Linked DNA regions of Homo sapiens: region 1 is linked to region 2. Evidence: fine-mapped expression QTL. Tissue or cell type: whole blood. Region 2 holds a variant in brackets; the other region holds the start of a gene. All regions are shown on one strand. Distances are between the middles of the regions.

Region 1 (2,910 bases), 37 kb before region 2:
CAATCCCCACCCTCAAGGAGCTCATTCTACTGTGGAGAGGCATACAAATAATTATAATACTGTAAGAATATGCACATGAAAAAGCCCTACTGCTACCTAAGCCTCTGTCTGGGATGCCCACTGTCTGCTCTTTTCATCCTGTAGCTTTAAATATTGGCTTCTCAAAGAGGCTTCCTCTGATCATCTAACTCATTCACTCAAATATTTTTTGAGTGTTTCCAGCACTGTTCTAAACCCCAAAGACAAAAGAATGAACAAAACAAAATCCCTGCTCTTATGGCATTTACATTCTAGTGGGGAGAGATTCACATTAAACAAAGATGCATACATTTAATATGAAAAAATAACTCTCTATGAAGAAAAATGAGGCAGGGTAACCAGAGTAGCGGGAGTGCTATTTGGGCAGAAGTCCTCTCTGAGGAGGTCAGATTTCAGTAGAAAGTTTAAGTTGTGGCATGATCTCCAAAGATATTTGAGGAAGAAAAAGACCAGGTGAAAAAGCTTCTAGGACCATCTGTTATTCTGCATACCAGTTCCTTGTTTCCTTCACAGCACATCACAGTTCCTGGAAGTCTTACATATTTATATTTACTTTTATCTGTTCTCCTCGCAAATATAAGCTCCAAGTAATGGCAAGGATCTCTTATATGTCGATGTCAGTGTCCCTGGCCCTTAGAACAGTGCCTAACCATACAAAGCTGATGTTCACTCTATCTGCTGAATGAATAAATAATTGTTGCGCTCACTAATGATAACAACTCCTAACTTTATTACCTGGCTTTCTATTGGAATCCTGACAGCTCCATGAGGTAGCTAAGGATAATAATCTACAGATTTAAAAAAATGAAGCGAAGAGTGTGAGAATAGTCATCAGGTGGGCTTCTAACAGGAAAAGGTCTCAGGGCCTACGGCAAAATTCGGAGGGGGGGTTACGGAAAGGACAGGGTGGATTAGGCCATGGTGACTTGGAGAGAGGAGGCACGACTGGCCATTTTTCCTGAGTCTGGAAAAAGCAGCCTAGTACAAGAAGCTCCTTCGAGCGACCTCCTTAAAATACACTTACCTGGTCTACGTCGTCCGCCATGTTTCAAACCCTGCGCCCTTTCCCGCCTCTCGCGAGAACACAAGAGCAACGTCAATCTCCGGAAACGTGAGGATACAATACACCGGAAATAGAGAGAAACCTGTTGTGCTCTTTCCTGCTTCCCGCAGTTTTTTAGTGGCCACGGGTATGGGGTGGAGCTTCCTTTAGGGGCGTGACTAGGCCTCCAACGAAGGGGCGTGGCCAAGCGCACCGCCTCGGGGCGGGGCCGGCGTTCTAGCGCATCGCGGCCGGGTGCGTCACTCGCGAAGTGGAATTTGCCCAGACAAGCAACATGGCTCGGAAACGCGCGGCCGGCGGGGAGCCGCGGGGACGCGAACTGCGCAGCCAGAAATCCAAGGCCAAGAGCAAGGCCCGGCGTGAGGAGGAGGAGGAGGGTGAGAGCGAGGCCCAGCGGGCTTCGCGGGAGACGCCGCCGGTGGGCGGAGGAGGCCCAGAGGCAGGGCGGGAGTCCAGACGCGGAGGCCTGGTGGAGGTTGCTGCGCGCGTTCCGCGCCGTGGGGGCAGCCCGGCAGGCTGCGGCCGGCCCTCCCCGCTGTCCCCGCGTCTTTGTCCTGCGCACCCAGAGCGGTTTCCCGCGAGCTTCGCCCGATCCAAGCTCCTGCGTAGCTTTTTTCCCGCTCCCCGTTGTCCAGAGGATACAGATGTTCAGGGTTGAACTCGGAGAAGGCAGTTATTTGTGTCCCAGGAAGACAGACGGACGGACCAGGACGTAGAGTGATGCAGTGTGCTGACTCCCGAATGATAACTTCAGCTGAGTCTCACCCAGAGTTCCACAGTGGGATCCCACCTGACTTCCCCTCATGGATATTTGATAGGCTTCTTACATTTGTCATGGGCAATGCAGAACTCATGGTTTTCCTCTTTAAATCTATGCTTTCCTCCGTTTTTCCAGTCTCAATACTTGTTATAAAGCAAAGCCCACCTTTTTCTTATGTCCACACATCCAGTCCGTCAGCAAGTCCAGTCAGTTCAGCCTCAAGAGTGTATTTCAAATTTGTCCACTTCTCTTCATTTCCATGACCACAGCCCCTGTCCAAGTCATCATCACCTTTCAGTTGAGTGACTGCAGTTTCCTCTTTACTGGCCTCCCAGCTCTGCATCCAGCAACCCAAATAATCTTAAAAAAAAAAAAAATCATGCCCTGCTCCTGCTTTAAACTCCCCTTGGTTTTCCATTGCTCTTAGCTTAAAATCCAGTTGTTTTATCCTGGCCTACAAGATACTACATGTTTTGGCTCTTGCTACCTCTCCTGTTTCTCTTACCACTTGTTTCCTTGCCAGATACCCTCCTTATTGGCCTCCTTTCTCTTCCTCAAATATGCCAAGTTATTCCTTGAGTCTTTTCCTTTGATGTTCCTTCTGCCTAGAGTGAACCCCCCATGGCTTTTACCAGGGCTGATTTTTTCTATTTCTTCAAAACTCAAGTTAGACATTCCTTGAGCAAACTAAGGTGGTCCTTCCCAGATACCCCGCGGATACTAAAACCTGTGATGCTCAAGTACCTTATATCAAATGGCCTAGTGTTTCCATGTAACCTATGCACATCCTCCGACATACTTTAAATCATCTCTAGATCACTAATAATACCTAATACAATGTGGATACTATGGAAATAGTTGTCATGCTGTATTTTTTAAATTTGTATTTTTTTTCCCGAAATATATTCATCTGTGGTTGGTTGAATCTGTGGATGCAGGGCCCGTGGATTGGTAGGGCTAAATGCTAAATAAATATTTTATTTATTTTTTATTTTTTTCGAGACAGTGTCTCACTCTGTCGCTGAGGCTGGAGTGCAGTGGCGTGACC
Region 2 (2,910 bases):
AAGCTTCCAACCTTTTCTCTTAATCGTTTCTTTAATCTTTTAAACCATCTTCAAGTGCATAGGGGAGTTTCCGATGCCAGAGGATGAAAGCAAGTGCTTTCTCCACCCTCTCCTCCCAGAGTGAAAACAAATCCTTTTGCTGATACTTGTTTCAAAAGCATCCATTGTAAAGCTTCTCAGTGACACAAAATACTGAGAGGTAACTTTTTATCAATCAAACCACATACCCCAATTTAACACCTTTCAGTGCTCTGAATTCAACTGACAGACTAAAGGGTGTTTCCTGTAACAGTCTGAAATATTAAGTGTTTTTTTTGTTTTGTTTTTAAATCTTATTTCAGAAAACTTCCTCTTGGGGTAGGAAAGTACACATGAAGCAGCAAAGTAACGAAGAAAAACTTAAATAGGGCCTTCAGAGATCCCACACACTACAAAGATTCTGCCAAGCCATAAGATAAGTGTGAAGCCCAGTATATGTCCAGCTTTTCTCCTCAGGACATCTTCAGTGTTTCTTCTCTTTTAAACACCACATCAGGTTCTAGCCACAGACTTGTGTTTTGGGTGTGCCTGCTTTGAGGGGTCCATGCCCAGTGTGTCTGCTGGTGACCCAGGACTCAGCAGTAATGACTAACGGCCGCCCTTCAGGATCACAGATGTGCTTGGTGGTGGTGGCAAAGCATGGCACTTGTGTGCAGTGATGAGAAGCAGCACACGGCAAGGCTGAGCCCTTTATCAGCAGGCCTCCGTAGAGCGTGTCTGCGTTGTCAGCTGCCAATGGGCTGAGTGGCTGGCCGTACCCACTCAGTCCAAGAGAGGAAGGAAACAGCAGGAGAAGCTGTCAGCTTGCCATTCATGAGCTGCTGCTGCCCACCAAAGCTGCTTACTGGCAAGAAGAGATGTGGGGAAGACATGAGCTGGTGAACACCAACCTGGTGCACATGCTGCCAAGTCTGGCCCCTGAAGAGGAGAGGGAGTGCAGAGTCCAAAATTGACCGGGGCTCCTGCTCTGGCATGGAGCTGGGTCAGAGGTGAGAGAGGACCTGGATCCTAGGGCTCACGCAGGTGTCGGGCGGGTGCCAGGGTCTTTTCACTCCAACTTTTTGGCTGGCACCCGTGTCCGAGCAACAAGGATGGGCACAAGGGCCAGGCCGGCAATGAGGAGGGCCCACAGGGGTCGGTAGAAGAGCCAGCCAGCCGCCACGGTCAGCAGGGTCAGCGAGGTGGCCACACAGAAGGCAAAGGCTTTCAGGCCAATGTTGACCAGGTCTCGGAAAACAGGAAACCAGTCCACTGTGGAAAGGAGAAAGGTGATGAGGTGCCACCTGCTCTACACCTCACCAGCTCAGCAGATCTCTCCTGTCCCTAGATGAGGATGGGCCCATGTTGCTACATGCATGAGGAGGGGAGAGGATCAGTGGGTGGAAGGCAAGGAGCTTCGTTCTGAAAGCTAAGGGAGCACAGGAGCCTCTGCTATGAGCTGCGTGGTTGGGCACATTGCCTAAGCCACCCACTCTACCCTGATCCAGGGGAGAGGATGTAGCAGTGCTTTGTAAACTTTAATACTTTATGTGGAGAGTAGTCTGAGGCCAGTATAAAGACATTTGCCTGTAATGCTAGAAATAACCTGGGTCCTGCACAC[T/A]CATACAAGAGGCTGTGGGTGGAGCCTCCTGAAGGTGCCTATTTGGGCCTCTCAGCCATTCCTAGAGGTGTTGGTTCATTCATGCAGCAGGCTGTTACTAATGATTTATGTGCCCAGCACTGAACCAGCAGGTGCTAGAGGAAATAAATTAGCCTAAGCATTGGCCTCTCCTCAAGAATCTCACAGACTATTGGTCCAATAGGATAAAGCCCAGAATCCAGCTAAATTCATGAGGAATTACCCTATTCTTGCCTTGTGTGACCTCTCCAGGTTGGCATTCCATAGCTGATGTCCACTCAGGGAATCTTCGCTCAGTTCCCAGGAGGCCACCAATGGTCTGGAATCACTGGGTTTGCAGAGCAAGCCCTGGTGCCCCACCATGCCTGCAGCACACCCTGCAAGCCACTACCTGGCCTCATCCTGATCTGTTCCCATACAGCACTGCTACTCAGCCCTTATAATAAGCAAAGTTCATGTTTCTGAACGTTGCCTGTGTTAGGCACCATGTGCACCATCTCATGAAGCACTCATGCCCACCCTGTAAGGTAGGTACTCTTCTTAACTCCATTTTACCCACAGGGTCACTGAGACTCAGGGAATTAAGAAACTCACCACCAGTCCTCCTGTTAGAAAGTGCCAGAACCAGGATTTGAACTCAAGACCGTATGGGCCCAGAGCCTGGGCTCTGAGCTGTTGCTCTAAGTCTTGTCTGTCTCTAGCTGTGGAGTCTTACACACGTTGGTATTTATCAAACGCATGGGGAACTGTGTGCTTCCCTGCTGCGCTCCCAACTCTCCCCACCCACCCTGGGGGTCCCTCCACACTCTAAGTCTGTCCTGAGTCTGGCGCATTCCAGACGTAGAGTGAATTGGGATCACAGACATCAGAGATCCAAAGAAGGGCCCACTGAGACAGACACGAGGAAACCAAGGCTCCAGAAGGGAACTGGTCTCCCCAGGGTCACACAGGCAAGAAAGAGGATTCCGTTTAAATGCTCATCTCTCGCTAATGTGCCCACCACGTCACTGGTCTTTCTGAGCACAATTCAGCTGTCCAAAGAAAGGCTCAGGGAGAGTCCTTCCCTTCCCGGGCCTGTTTTCCCAACTGTAAACAAAGGAGGTGGTCCCCCCAGCTCAGACAGCCCAAGATGTGCAGCCAGACCTCTTCTGACTTGTGCATGCTGAGTGGGGAAGAGGTTTCTGTTGGCACCCAGAGAAGACTGATGCAATCATGTGACTGGAAGGGACACACACCAGGGAAAGGCTTGGATG

The links.
Region 1: XPC starts here. The variant in region 2 is fine-mapped to the expression of XPC in whole blood (TOPMed, PIP above 0.99).

What each region holds. Positions count from the first base shown.
Region 1 is chr3:14,177,035-14,179,944 of GRCh38, reverse strand. It overlaps XPC (XPC complex subunit, DNA damage recognition and repair factor), which reads left to right and starts at 1,344. Exons shown (of 16, transcript NM_004628.5): 1 at 1,344-1,479. The coding sequence starts at 1,377. LSM3 (LSM3 homolog, U6 small nuclear RNA and mRNA degradation associated) reads right to left here and starts at 1,128. Exons shown (of 4, transcript NM_014463.3): 1 at 1,064-1,128. The coding sequence starts at 1,084. RefSeq lists enhancers at 1,035-1,084, 1,185-1,534 and a silencer at 1,585-1,704.
Region 2 is chr3:14,139,973-14,142,882 of GRCh38, reverse strand. TMEM43 (transmembrane protein 43) reads right to left here. Exons shown (of 12, transcript NM_024334.3): 12 at 1-1,290. The coding sequence ends at 1,088. Among named protein-coding and RNA genes, the nearest start is that of XPC-AS1, 8.1 kb to the left of the region's middle. The variant T/A (reference allele first, on the strand shown) is at 1,640.